2 separate regions of the Homo sapiens genome follow, and region 1 is linked to region 2. The links come from fine-mapping of genetic effects on gene expression. Tissue or cell type: whole blood. Region 2 holds a variant in brackets; the other region holds the start of a gene. All regions are shown on one strand. Distances are from middle to middle.

Evidence for each region. PIP is the estimated chance that this variant, and not a neighbour inherited with it, causes the effect.
Region 1: it holds the start of PIGM, and the variant in region 2 is fine-mapped to the expression of PIGM in whole blood (INTERVAL, PIP 0.99).

The regions. Positions count from the first base shown.
Region 1 is chr1:160,027,510-160,035,311 of GRCh38, reverse strand. It overlaps PIGM (phosphatidylinositol glycan anchor biosynthesis class M), which reads left to right and starts at 3,322. Exons shown (of 1, transcript NM_145167.3): 1 at 3,322-7,802. The coding sequence starts at 3,573. The coding sequence ends at 4,844.
Region 2 is chr1:160,005,039-160,012,840 of GRCh38, reverse strand. All of the region lies in intron 3 of LOC124904436 (a long non-coding RNA gene), which reads left to right. Among named protein-coding and RNA genes, the nearest start is that of PIGM, 23 kb to the left of the region's middle. The variant C/T (reference allele first, on the strand shown) is at 3,667.

The DNA of each region.
Region 1 (7,802 bases), 22 kb before region 2:
TCAGTTAAGAGATTTTTAAAGCTTGAGGGAAAGGCAATTGTCACAGATCCTGGTATAGTATAGTATAGGTGTTCGCTACGTATTATTTGAGTTGTTGAAGGTCTGAACTAAGGTGCAGGATGCTGGGCATGGAAAGAATTAGAAATAGATTCCAAAGAAATGACAAAGCAAGACATATGAACAAAATCTAGTGAAAAAGAAAGTGATTAAAGTAGTCAAGGTTCTAGCAGGAAACAGATGGTATACTCAAAGGGCCAGTGGACATGTTTTAATGAAGAAACTATTTGCAAAGGTATGGGCAAGTTTAATAAATCAACAAGATATGGTGATGTACCCAGGCACTCGCAAAGTAGGACGCCTTTACCAGCCTTAAACCTGAAGGGACAGTTACTGGAACCATGAGACTTGTACCCAAAGGAGAGAGCTATAGCTTCAACAGGAGCCATGGCTTTAGGTGAGGAATTCCAGACACTGCCAAAGATCTGCTAGTGCCTCCCACTGGTCTATTCTAATGGGAAGCCAGAGAACAAGGGAGATTGAGTGATGCTACCCATACAGCCTAACCTCTTGGAACACAGAACAGGGCAAAAAAGATGAATAGTGGATATGGAAGGGTAATGAGAGTATATGCAGCATAGTGAACAAGGACAAGGTTCCTGCTAGGGAAACTAAAGTTGAGCGATCCATGTTTGTGCTTTCCTTAGTCATTGGCTCTAAAAGGATAGAAATCTAGGAGCAGATAGTGAAAGGGGGAATTAAGAAGGATTGTAAGTAACAGTCCGAGAGGTAATGAACAGTTGAGCATTTGAAAAAAATGTAACTCTTTCAGAAAGAGGTGAGAAAATACAATCCCTAAACCCAATGCAAAAAGTTCAATATGGGGTCCTCGGACCCTGTGATGTATCTCTTCCACCCAGAAATAGTAACTAAAGTTGGACCTCTCTGTCCAATTTGTTTTACAGATTCCAGTCTCTTCTTCGTTCCCACAACTGCTATCTACATCTCACTCCTTTGACTTCAGTGACATGCTTAGTTTTTTTTTTATTTTATTTTTTTATTAGTTGTTTCCTTATCTGCCTAAATTTGGTGCCTCCCATCTCTCTACTAGGACAGCCATGTAGGGACAGATTGACTGAAACCTTTCTGCTATACTACTGAAACCAATCCAGCCACAAGGACCCTTACTTAGTTAATCCTCAGACACCTACCTCCCATATTTTCTATCTTAGGGAACTAAGCCTCACTTATCTATTATTTGCAGAAGAAAAGAATAAATCAGAGGTAGAAAGAGTCACAGTGAGAGAGAATATCCAGAATATCAAGATGAGAGATCAATAAGAGAAAACATAGGAAAATTAGAATTTGTGATCAACATTTTATTGGCAAGTCAGCCACATAATGATTAAGATATTCTAGGTCAGACAGACTGGGTTTTGAGTTCTAGCACTGTCACTAGTTAGCTATGTGACTTGGGAAAATTACTTAATCTCCATAAGCCTTGGTTTTCTTCATTTGTAAAGGTGGGAATATCTACCTTACATGAAAAGTACTTAGCATAATGCCTGGTACATTGCAAATGAGTCCTCAACAAATCCAGCTATTATAAATAATAGTAATCATCATCATCATAATCATCATTATATGAGTGGTGATGTGCTGCCACTATATATATGGCTAATATACTGCAAAAAAATGGTTAGAATTATCAATCTAAGGCATGTAATGATACCAAGGCATATAAAAGGACATAGAGCTATCACAATATGAATATGGAATATATAAGATTAACACAGTTCATCTCCAAGGGATAAATTGAAGTGTAGGATGGATGAGCAGCAGGTAGTTCTGGGAGCTGCATGTTCAGACTGCATGAAGTCACCTCCTTTTCCTTATTCTAGTCTAGAAGACTTCCCCTAGGAAGCAGGCTTATTCTATAAAATCCAATTAGTCAGTATTTACTAAGCATTTACCATGTGCCTAAGACTACAATAAATTACACATAATTGAAAAAAATTAAGGATAAGATATAATTTCTACCCCCAAGAACCCTATAATCTCTTGTGAGGGCTATGAATACAATCTAAAATAAAGTATCAAATTCTACAATGCGGACTATGTAAGTGCACTAAGTAACCACGGAAAGGGAAGAGCTAATGGGTTACAGTCCTTGGCAAGAAATTCATGGAAGTAGGGTTGGAGTGGGGTGGGGGGAGCAGGGGACCTTGACATACATAAAGGATATTTAAAAGGGAAAATAACTGGGAGTTGGGAGCAATCCAAAGATGCCACTCTAGAAATATTCTGGTAGGAGGAACCTCTAAAATCAATTCAACTTTACTGAATGGCTACTAGTACTGTGTTAGATGTTGAGGTAGAGAAAAGAACAAGATAATCTCTGATACCGAAGAATTGAAAGTGTCCTGATGGAAAACTAGGAGAGCAAAACAAACAAAAACAGTTATTACAAAGCAGTGTGACAAATGCTGTAACAAAGGAATGACCAGGGAGTTCTGGAGCACTGGGAGAACTTTTAGTAGCATGGCAGGGTCTTCTGTGTGAGTGATTTTCTGGAACTTAGATCCCGTCCGCCCCAGTCTACCTATCCTCGGACAGGGGAGGGGACTGGCATCTAAGTCATTCATTCTGCGTGATGAGGAAGTGAGTGGGAGCTGGGAGCTAACACTTGCACTGATGCCTGAAGGGTTGAGTAGGTATTTGCCAGAGTGATTGGAGAGCGGATGGCAACTTTGACAGAAGAAATAGCAAATACAGAGATACTGAGGCATAAGGGGCTGACAAGTTAAGGAATTTTGTGACGCTTTCCTGTCTTCTTTCCCATCACCTTCACCTAGGGTTGCCGGATAAAATACAAGCTGCCCACTTAAATCTGAATCTCTGATTACCAACTAGTAATTTAAAAATATAAGTATGCCTCCAATATTGCATGGAACATACACACTCAGCCCCCTTCAACTCATCCTGTCCTGTCCGGGGCCCACAAATCCCCGGTGAATACCGGCGAGCTAGTGGAGTAAAGCATGAGAAGGCTTATCTTCCTTTCACTCCTACATTTTTCACTCTCGGATCTCCAGCCCAGGACTGAAGGATGTAGCGCGCAGCCCGCAGCTCGCTGCTCGTCGGAGGGTTTTCCTCTGAGGACTGGAAATGGGGCGCGGGAAGAGGGCGGGGGGCGGCGGGCTGTCACTTACAAAGAAATCTCACTCCACTCCATAAAATCCTCAAGCCAGTGCCGGATTTCCCGGCAAGCGGACGTCTCCCCTCCCACGGACCGGAAATCCCGCCTCCGCTGGAAGAAGAAGCGGAAGCGAGACCGTCCATCCAGAGGAAGGCAAGTTTTTGGCTCGGGCGGCTGAGAAGACCGCGCGGGGCTGGAGACAGGTAGCAGTACGGGGGCGGGGCTTCATGCCGGATGTGATAGTCTGCAGTCGTTTCGGTTGGCAGCCTGGCGGGTGGGAGATGCGGCGGCCACCTGCTGCAAAGAACCGAAGGGAAGGTTAGAAGTACGAAGGCAGTTTGGAGCTGGGGCTAAGCAGCTGTCGCACGGTCAGATCATGGGCTCCACCAAGCACTGGGGCGAATGGCTCCTGAACTTGAAGGTGGCTCCAGCCGGCGTCTTTGGTGTGGCCTTTCTAGCCAGAGTCGCCCTGGTTTTCTATGGCGTCTTCCAGGACCGGACCCTGCACGTGAGGTATACGGACATCGACTACCAGGTCTTCACCGACGCCGCGCGCTTCGTCACGGAGGGGCGCTCGCCTTACCTGAGAGCCACGTACCGTTACACCCCGCTGCTGGGTTGGCTCCTCACTCCCAACATCTACCTCAGCGAGCTCTTTGGAAAGTTTCTCTTCATCAGCTGCGACCTCCTCACCGCTTTCCTCTTATACCGCCTGCTGCTGCTGAAGGGGCTGGGGCGCCGCCAGGCTTGTGGCTACTGTGTCTTTTGGCTTCTTAACCCCCTGCCTATGGCAGTATCCAGCCGCGGTAATGCGGACTCTATTGTCGCCTCCCTGGTCCTGATGGTCCTCTACTTGATAAAGAAAAGACTCGTCGCGTGTGCAGCTGTATTCTATGGTTTCGCGGTGCATATGAAGATATATCCAGTGACTTACATCCTTCCCATAACCCTCCACCTGCTTCCAGATCGCGACAATGACAAAAGCCTCCGTCAATTCCGGTACACTTTCCAGGCTTGTTTGTACGAGCTCCTGAAAAGGCTGTGTAATCGGGCTGTGCTGCTGTTTGTAGCAGTTGCTGGACTCACGTTTTTTGCCCTGAGCTTTGGTTTTTACTATGAGTACGGCTGGGAATTTTTGGAACACACCTACTTTTATCACCTGACTAGGCGGGATATCCGTCACAACTTTTCTCCGTACTTCTACATGCTGTATTTGACTGCAGAGAGCAAGTGGAGTTTTTCCCTGGGAATTGCTGCATTCCTGCCACAGCTCATCTTGCTTTCAGCTGTGTCTTTCGCCTATTACAGAGACCTCGTTTTTTGTTGTTTTCTTCATACGTCCATTTTTGTGACTTTTAACAAAGTCTGCACCTCCCAGTACTTTCTTTGGTACCTCTGCTTACTGCCTCTTGTGATGCCACTAGTCAGAATGCCTTGGAAAAGAGCTGTAGTTCTCCTAATGTTATGGTTTATAGGGCAGGCCATGTGGCTGGCTCCTGCCTATGTTCTAGAGTTTCAAGGAAAGAACACCTTTCTGTTTATTTGGTTAGCTGGTTTGTTCTTTCTTCTTATCAATTGTTCCATCCTGATTCAAATTATTTCCCATTACAAAGAAGAACCCCTGACAGAGAGAATCAAATATGACTAGTGTATGTTCCACACCCTCTGCTACTGTGTTACATTCTGATTGTCTTGTATGGACCAGAAGAGAGCTTTGGGACATTTTTTCTGAACATTCTAAGCATTCTAGTGAAAGTTCCCATGTTCCAACAGAACTTAAAAGCAATGTTTGCCTTATATATAAAAGGGACACAATAATTGAGGTCCACCTTCTAGGAAATCCTAGGACTCGTTTATTTGGGACATGGTGGGAATAAAGGTCACATATTGGAAAATGGAAAGGCTGATGAAACTATCAGATACTAAAACATTCTTAAAATAGAGGAATATAGTTAGAGACATCAGGTTTAAGCCAGTATTTGTTCCTGTTTTACAATGCTTCTGTCTTAAGCTGTGTCTTAACTTTTAACACCCATCTTTTCTTTCTAAAGCTTTCCTGACAGCTGTGAAAATCCAAAAAATATTCTTAAACTGTGTATGGTGGCCCTTGCCTGTAGTCTCAGCACTTTGGGAGGCTGAGGTGGGAGGGTCGCTTGAGTTCAGGAGTTCTAGACCCACCTGGGGCAAGATGGTGAGACCTAGTCTCAAAAAAAAAAAAAAAAATTAGCCAGGTGTTGTGGTGCACCCCTGTAGTCATAGCTGCATGGGAGGCTGAGGTGGGAGAATTGCTTGAGCCCAGAGCAAGACCCTGTCTCAAAAAAAAAAAAAAAAAAAAAAAGGAAAGGACAACTTTTTAGATAGAAAAGTATTAAATAATACTAAGATGCTTAGTAGTATTATTTTAGAGAGTTTTAAACTTCTATATTAAATGTGGGGTCTTACAAGATAATCCAAAGACTTTGGGAGGCCAAGGCGGGCAGATCACGAGGTCAGGAGATTGAGACCATCCTGGCTAACACGGTGAAACCCCTCTCTACTAAAAATACAAAAAATTAGCCGGGCGTGGTGGGTGCCTGTAGTCCCAGCTACTCCTCGGGAGGCTGAGGCAGGAGAATGGCGTGAACTCCGGAGGTGGAGCCTGTAGTGAGCCGAGATGGCACCACTGCGCTCCAGCCTGGGCGACAGAGCAAGACTCCATATCAAAAAAAAAAAAAAAAAAAGATAATCCAAAGAATTTAAATTGTAATCATGTTTCATGTATTTGTTTTATTACTTACTTTTATAGCACTTAGTCCCAGTGGTATTAGACTGCTATTTGGTTTCATACAAAAAGGATTAAATTTAAATTCATTCATGTTTAGACTTGAGTTATTACATTTTTAAAACTATCATCTTGCCTTTAATGTTTGTGGTCCTACACAAACTATTAGTACATTTCAGTATCCTCTTACCCCTTTGTTTTTAAGTTTTTGATTGCTAAAGCAAGACTTTTTTCTTCTAGAATTTAAGTCAACCAAGTGTTATCTATGTTGTAAAAATGGATAATAGTAGATTTTAGGTGATAAAACAACTTGTTAGTAAGACATTTCCTAGCTTAAAAAAAAAAATCAAAAATTCCATGATAGAAATGCAGACCTGTGAGGGAAACTCCTGAAAAGCATAAGAAGCATCCCAGAGAGCCATGGGTTTTCTAGACCAGAGAATTTAGAGGGAGATTGTGGAACTGAGGCTTAGGTGGTCAGATCGTTTCCCTTATCACTGTAATATTTCTGGGGGAAAAATGCTTTCTGAGTTGTTTAAACAAGCATCCTTACATTTTTTTTTTTAATTAAACAGCCTGTCTAGGCTTGGGATTCCCTAATACTACAGTAGCAGTATATGAATATGATTTTGTGATTGTGTTTTTTAAAAGATAAGTAATTTGATGAACTGTTCTTTTGCAGTCAGAAAACACTCACAAAAAGACAAAAAAAGTTCCACAGTATTATATTTCATGTCAGTTCAGGCCTAAAATCCTTTGCAAATAAGATGTTTATAGGCTGGTCACAATTAACAATGTTATTATTGGCAGCACTTCTTGGATGGATACCTTTTGGGACCTTTCATTAGAAAGAGGGAAAGAATGGGGTGGTTTTGTATGGGCTCCTGTTTGGGGTAAAAATAGCAGAGTCAGTTGCTGAGGACAATGACCTTCCTTATAACATTTAGTTTCATACCCATATTAGGTCTTGTCTTGAGGACCCTTTATATGTGCTTGTTTACTAGTGGCCTTCCAGCCATAGCATTCTTACCTTTTTTTCCTATTCTAAGAATTAAAAAAAAAAATTATAGAGCCAGCAAGGGAGGAGGCAGGAAACAGAAATCGAATTTCATCATTCCAGTATAGTTGTCCCTTTTTTTGTATTTCTGACTTGGTTTTATAATTATATTTACTTACTAATTATTGTTTTTTAACATTCTTTATTGTGGCTTACTCTTCATACTTAGAATTGAAATTGTTGGACATCACATGTATATTCACATTATAAATACATCATTCTTCCACTGTTAGACCTTTAGATTGCTTCCAGTTTTTAATATTCTAAATAAGACTTTCAACATTTTCTGTGTTTTAGCTCATTCTCTTAGGACATTCTTAGAAGTTAGAAACATTTCTGCTGGGATCGTTGGAGGGAACTTCAAACTTTGGAATCTTTCCTGCAAGAAATTCTTTACCAAAGAAAGGCAGGTGTTTCTTAAAGGGATGCAAAAGATATTTTGCACTTTGTATGTTCCAAAACATTTAGTAAGTTAACTAAAAAAATGAGTTAATTTGGTTTCTTGGGGGATTTTAATTTTTTAATTTGTTTTCTGGTTATGTAAAAAAAATGTTTTTTTTTTGCTTCTTATCACAATCCTTTTGTTTCCTTTTTAATCCTTTAATAACACCTTCAAATTTTATAAGACTTTGGCTTATTTCCTATATAATTCTTTTTTTCTTATACCACCTCTTAAGATTGATATGTTCATTTGCAGGTAAGCATTAATTATTAGATAAAGAGGGATGATTCTCAAGATTGTGTGTGTTCTGAACAGAGGGAACTACATGACATTTTCTTCTGTAATT
Region 2 (7,802 bases):
ATATTTTTGAATTAGTTATCTGCATCTAAAAATCAGAAAGTTTTATACAAGAATCTGTTTTTACAAATTCTCCTTAAAAATCAGAATATCTGGCAACTCTAGACTCACAGTCTCCCTTGACAAAAATGTGCAGGAGCTGGGAGGCAATTGCTTCCCATCATCAGGAAAGGTCCCCACCAGTGTACTTTATTCATTTTTGTTGTCTGCCTAATCCCTGAAGGCATTTCAGGATGCTATTAAGTTTTGTATATTTATTTTGCAATTGGACACATTACACGAATTCTCTAATTAGTACTAACTGTTTTGTGGCTAATTTTCTTGGGGTTTCAAGTAATTATATCATCATGCAAAAAATTATAATTTTATCTTCTCTTTCCAAAATATATACTTTCTAATTCTTTCTTCTCGCCTTATTACAGTTGCCTAAAAATTTCTCACATTTTGAATAATCGTTATGACTGTTAATTTTAACTTTAATTTTTAACATGAGGAGATTGAGAGATGCCTAAATGGCTGGTTTGTTTCTGGGTGTGTCTGTTTCCAGGAGAGATTGGTGGGTGAGTCAGTGGACTGAGAGAAGAAGACTTGCCCTCGATGGGGGCAGGCATTGTCCAACTGGTTGGGGGCCTGGTTGGAACAAACAGGAGAAAGACAGCAGATTCTCTGTCTCTGCTGTCTTTCCTCTGGAGTGGGAGGCTTTTCCTCCTCTTGCCCTTGGACATCAGGCTCCAGGTTCTTTGGCTTTTGGACTCTGGGACTTGCACCAGTGACCTCCCAGGGCTCTCAGGCCTTTGGCCCCAGACTGGAGGCTGCACGGTCAGCTTCCCTGGTTCTGAGTTCCCTGGTTCTCTTTAGCTTACAGGTGGCTGGTCGTGGGACTTTGCCTCTGTGGTCATGTGAGCAGCCAATTCCCTCATAAATCCCCTCTCATATCCTACTGGCTCTGTTTCTCTGAAGAACCTTGACTAACACAAGGCTCATAATAGCAGGCATCTTTATACGGTACCTAATTTTAATGGGAATGCCCCTTGTGCTTGACTTTTAGGTATGAAGTAAGCATTTTTTTATTGTGTCAAGGAAGTATACTTTTTATAGTTCTCTGATGTTTTGATTTTGTATTAATATCAGTAATATATGTGGAATTTCATCAGACCAAATGACTCTTCAATATCTATTGATATTATCCTGTGACTTCTCTAAATTTAATACATTATAATAAGAGATTTTTCTAAGGGTTTATATGCTTCACATAGTTTAAGCCATGTATGTATTTTTATTATGAATCCTACCAATGTCTAACACTACTTAATAAACCCTAATAATATCCTTCTTAATCTAATTTGCTAGAATAAATCCAGATAAATATTATTTTATTAAGTTTGTCTGGCACTCCTCATATTGGCCCCATTATTTCTATATGTGGTCATTTTCCTCCATTTTCTCATCCTTACAATGGGAGGCTTATGCCTGTCCAGCATGGGAATGGGTAAGTGTTCTCTCAGAGATTATGCATCCCTGTGAAAGCCTTTCAGTCTTGGCACAGGAAATAAGTTTATATTTTGTTGACCTTAACCACCTTAGAAGTGTCTTGGTGTATGAGAAGTAAGAAGAGAGGTGGCCATAGGTAGGCAGCCTCATCTCTGGCTGAAGGGCTCCTCCTGGGATTGTCACAGCAGCTGAAGCCCACCGGGGCAGGCAGCAGTACCCCTCCAGCCAGCATGGCGGCCCTCCCCAAGAGCAAACCTCATCAGAACCTCTGCTCCATTCTCCATGCCTTCTGTGCTGTGAACAAGTCTTGAGCATCCCTGGGACCACCCGGCCCTCCTTGAGAGCTCCAGCACCTGTTTCCTTCTCAAGGTGGTGGTGGAGTTTGAATTTGACACTGCCCTCAACAAAATGACAGTCTTATGATCGTCACTCATCTCTGGTCCCGTCACACCAAGGAGTGGAGTGTTTGTCCTCTTCTTTTGCATAGGTCATTTCAGCTGCAAGTTACGAAGGGAGAGTGTTAAATGCATTGACTCAGATTGTCATGCTGAATTGGAAACACTGGCTATTCCACTTGTATTGACTCTCAAGTTGAAAAGTGGGCCTTTTGTGCATTCAGCATGCCTCCCAGAGCCTAGCAAGGAGGGTAGAGATGGATAGGCAGCTTCTTTTTTCCAATCCATACTTGAGAAAATTTCAGCTGCATCAGCAGGTTACAAGGGAAACTACCTGAATGCCACCTGGGATTTATAGCCACCTGGGGGATAAGCATTTGTTTCTAATGTGGAATAAGATAATCTTTTCCTCCTAGCCTCTGGACAATAGAAAGGGAGTCTGACCATTTGCCAAACACATTGTGGAAGGGGAAAGTACGTAGAACTGGAGATTGGACAATGTCCTTAATACTCTTCCTTTACAGAAATTCTGTGACTAGTGTTTTATTTGACTAGAGATGGAGGGCTCCATCTCTCTAATCTTGAAGTCCTGAGATATGTGCCTGCTTGTTCAATGTCACCTAAGGCTTTTTAGTCAGTGTTGAAGGATGGGGCTGTCTTATGATCACACAGATATGTTTTATTGTCTTAAGGGCCTGACAAATCAGGGATACCTTCTAGTTAAATTCCTCTTTAAGGGCCTGAAGTCTCCTTAGTACTCAGCATGCAGTTCAGATGTTTCCCTTTCTCCTGGGAAACAAATAGGATTCTCAAATTGTGACTTTGTTAATTGTTCTTAAGCAAATTGCATTAAAATTTATATGCACCTTTCCAAGAGAAGATAAATTACACATGTTAAAGGAAGGAGAAGAAAAGACACAGTGATTATGAAATTCCTCAGAGAAAGGTTCTTTGTTCTTTGCGTGCCTCATAATCTATCTGTCAGAGCAGACCTGTCCATTCAGCAGGTCTAAGATGGCAGTGAGTTATGATTGGGGGACTCAAGCTTATCATCCTCATTCTCGGGAATATAATTGAAAGGTCAGAATACTTCCCCTTTGAGAGTTATCCAGCTTTGCCCAGGGGCTTGGCTGTGGTCCATGGGTCTTTAACTTGAGGACAGGGGGAAGGTAGGGTAGGGAACGTGGTCTTAGATTTCTCAGATATTTGAAAATAACTTTATCTTCGGTCAAAATCTGGAAACTGTACACATTACAATCAAGTGTTTCTTGGACTTTCTAGGGTAGAGGAAAAATGGGACAATGAAATAACTCTTTTATTCTTTTATGTCTGTTGGAGTCTTGAAACTCTCATCACTTTGCCCCGATATCATTCAGTCGGGCCCAACCTGAGCAAGAGAACATCTCTGATTTGATAAGCTTCTAAAGTAGTGTACATATTGCATTTTGACCACAATAAGACAGATTATGCAGAGTGCTATGAGACAGAGACAGGCCTAAAGAACTTCACTTTCTTTTTCTTTTCTTTTTTTTCTAACATAAAAGGCTGGGCAATTATTCAGGCATTGCCCATGCCACTCCTGACCTTGTGCAATTGTCCAGAAAGTCCCTGAGCCCAGAGCTGGGTGCAGGCTGTGCCTACAGCAAAGTCCTTGGGGGTAACCGGTAGCCTGTGGGGGAGGGGTACTGTTATGACCTCCTTTTACAACTTTCGCAAGGGCAGGCAATCTGGATCAGTGGAGTTAGCTAATCATAACTTCCTCAGTTATTTTATAACTCTGTGC[C/T]TCAGTTTCCTCTTCTCTAAAATGATGATAAAAATAGAATGTACTTTTTAGAGATGTGAAAATTAAATGAGGTAAAACTGTTAGGAGAGTTTCAGGGCTAGAGTAAGTGCTTAATCAATCATTATTTATGACATTATTACCTTATTTGGATCATTGAGGAGTAAATTTCTCTCTATTCTTGAATAGAAATGCTTAATAATCAAACAATTTGGTTTCTAAGTGAAGATGAGCTTTTAGTGGGAAATTTACAGATATCTTATGCCTCCCCTTCTTGCCTATACAAAGCCTGTATTCTTGGTTGGGACACCAAGAGCCTTATAAACTTTGCTTAAGCACAACAGAGAATATTCACAAAGTCTCTTAATCTCATCCAATTCCCATGAGAAGGAACACTGTTACATAGTGATGACAGTGGATCTCAACTGCATCATGAATTCTTCCCAAGAGACTCCTGAAACATTTATTTTATGGTAAAGATGCCTTCCAGCAAGATTGACTATAAAAAGAATTTTCTCTCTCTCATTGACTTGTTTTATAAAATCAGAGATATGATCTCATGGAAGAAAATCTTCCAATTGATTTGACAAAAATGCTTAGTTAAAGAATGAGTAGATGATGTGTTTGTTTTATTCCACAACTAAATTGTAAGTTCTTAAAGGGAAGGGAGCTAGATTCCTATTTTTGTAGATTACAAAGATTCAGTACATCGGACTGACCTGGTGGCTCATGCCTGTAATCCTAGCTACTTGGGAGGTCAAAGTGGGAAGATTGCTTGAGCCCAGGAGTTTGAGGCTGCAATGAGCTGTGATCGTGCCATTGCACTCCAGCCTGGGCGACAGAGTGAGACCCTGTCTGTAAAACAAAACAAAACTAAACAAGAATAGATTTAGTACAGGACCCTAAAATGTGCGGGGTACAGTAAATGTTGACATGGGCTGACCAGGTCCGAATAGTAGAAACAGAATATTTTTGAAACTTTTAAGAAGAAAATTCGCTTATGAAAAGATAATAATAGATGTGCCTAGATGTGGGAGTGAAGACAGTAGCCACACTCACTTGACTCTGCCTTTCCTAGAGGGCCCTGAGGGTGTCCTTTAGTGTTTTGAGGGCCTCTGAGAGGGCGTGACCCTGTTTGATTGAAGATGAGGCTCCTGAGACCAAGTGACTTAACCAAGTCTATACCAAGTTATTTATGGTAAAATCAGGACTAGGACTCAGACCTTTAACTGAACATGGAGATTCCAAGATCTCCCTTCTGCTTTCTCTGTATGAAAGGAATTTTTCTTATTTTGATTTATACCTGAGACTAGTATAATTCCACATCAACCAGCTCCTGTTAAATTTCCTGTGAAAGGAAGTTGGATGCAATATCACAATTGACCAATAGATGTCACTATATGCCATATTATTGTGCATGTGGCCACCTGTCTGAAATTTGCTTGAATTTCTTAATTGGGGTGGGGTCTGCAGACTTCTGGGAATCACTGGATCTGTTTGGGAGACACAAAAGAACTATGAGAATTTTAAAAATTGTATCTTAAGCTTGATAAAAGTTTTATCAAATCAAGAGTTATTCGACCTGCTATAAAGGCAAAACTCTTACTTGAAATCTTTTTTGATAGGAAAAAAGGGATGTTTTTCAAGTTGAGTTCCCTGGATGAGAAGTGGAGTTAGTGGGGCTGTGAGGAGCCCCTAACTTCTATTCAATTGGCAAAACCTCCCCTTCCACTTCATAGAGAGGAGTCTGAGGGATTGAAGGGCATGAGATTTGAAGTTCAACACAACTGGGTCTGAGTTCTGGTTCATTCATTAGCTGTCTGATCTTGAGTATGTTATTTAACCTCGTCTAGCCCCACTTCCCTCAGCTGTAACATAATGACACTGATCATATGGTGTTGTAAGGATGAAATGAGACGATATGTGAAAACACAAAGATTAACTGTCATTATTAACTATGACCATTTCACTTTACGAAGGCATTTTTATAACTAAAAATGCTTGGAAAGTACTAACTAGTCCAAGTTTCCATTTTAAAAATGGGACTTAAGAGGCCAAGTTATTTGGTTCTCTGATTATGTTTTACAATTTCATAATACAAGTATTTATGTAAAACAAGACATGCCTGTTCTAAATCTTTTACAGGTGTGTCCCTCCCCACTTGGGGAAATGTGATATGTCCCTATTCAAATTTATCAAACTGATGAAATACAAAATAACCCTTCACTTTGTAATTTAGCAGGCTAAATAATCCAGTTTATTTGAAACTTTTATCTTTATTTTTTTCTGTTTATAAAAGTATTCTAGAATAAGTGTGCAAAATTTCAGCAAATGATGTGTTTAAGTAATGATTTGATTGATGTAGTTAAAATATAATTTAATAATTAAATATGGATGTTTTCATAACTTTTCAACCACACAGTTTTAATGTTTTGATTTAGTCGATTCATTTATTAGGCAAATATTTTCATTGGGAACATTCATATTCACCGAATACATGTATAGGCTGCTAAGTGAAGGCTTTAATGGAGTGGGAATTCATGAATACTTGACCTTATGATGTCGGTTGCTCTGATAAATTGTTAGCTGAAAGAATAATTCAAAGTGTTGTGGGTCTACACTTTGAAGTAGAGGTTGAAGGCCTCTACTGCTGCTGCCGACAGAGGGCGCAGGCAGGTTTGTGCATCTTCTGAGCAGGTGGGGTGCTGTGAGTTACATCTGGGCCAACTACCCATTCAGGAGGCACACCATCTGGGGCCATGATACTTACTGGTACCCATGAAAATGTTTTAATTTTAAGTTCTTTTGAAATACAAAGAAAAAATAAATATAAGAATAATGAATATAATAAGGAATCCAGCTTACATTACATTTTGCCTGGGAAACAGCCAGACTCCATCTCTACAAAAATAAAAATTAAAAATTAAAAAAAAAAATTAGCCAGGTGTGATGGCAGGCACCTGTAATCCCAGATACATGGGAGGCTGAGGCAGGAGAATTGCTTGAGCACAGGAGTTCAAGGCTGCAGTGAGCTATGATGGCACCAATGCACTCCAGCCTGGGTGACAGAGCGAGATCCTGTCACAAAAAAAAAAAAAAAAAAAAAAAAAAATTATGGAGGTGAGGCTCTCTAAGGCCAGAGTAGCTAAGGCCCATGAAAATTATAATGTGACCTGAGCTACACTTCCAAAAAATGTGGAGTCCTAAGTTTACTGTAAGGGGAGAGGGGGATGAGGGAGAAAGTTGGAGGAAGAGGGAGTTGCTGAAGGCAAACTCGGCCTCGGGCCTGGGACACACGATAACCCAGAGAGTAGGGTGAAGGTTTAGCTCACCTGGGCTCTGACTGACTATATGGGAGGTGACCTGGGAGTGTAGGAATTATTTTAAGTTACAAAACTGTTTGTACAAAGACCTTTCTGACCTCATAGCTGCCAAGCTCCTAGACTTTTACCTGCTTCCCAAATCTTCAAAAACAGGCCGTTTTATTCGCCTCGCTTGCAGTCTGTAAAATGTCTTGCTGCCTATAAAATGTCATAGGTCTGGATTGGAAAACACAGGGTGGGCAGGCTGCATGATTCCTCCCCATCTAGGCCTAGGGAGAGCTATGTTTCAGGCTAAGTAGTAGTGCGGGTCGACTTTTCCCTCCTTGGAAAGTTACCATTGGAGGAACTCTGAGACTTCCAAGCAGGTATCTCTGCCTGAACATGAGGGGAGAAAAGAGATCACCCTCTGGGAAAAGAGCAGGCTTGCTGGTAACTCAGAGGACACTTTCTGACAGGCAAGAGAAGAAAGCTAGGTTTCCAGTCTGTGGCTTTTCTCTCTCCAGTGACAGTGTGTTCTGGCACTCCCAGATATGATTGCCTGGTTGCTTAGGGATGGCGCCTGGACCCTTGGCCTGGCGTCTTTGAGGGCTTCCTTCTGGGAAGAGAGAGGGCAAGTGAAGCAGGCTAGAACACGGCCATCTGGTGGCACTGGGCAGTCGACCAGCATCCCCTGCCATCCAGTGAAACACCTGTGAGACTCATGGGGTGGGATGGGAAGATGGGGTTGGGGAGGCTCTGCCCTCAAGAGCTTTGGTGCCATGCACCCATCCAGCCCCAGAGAGAGGGGCAGCAGTGGAGCAGGGGCAGAAGTCTAAC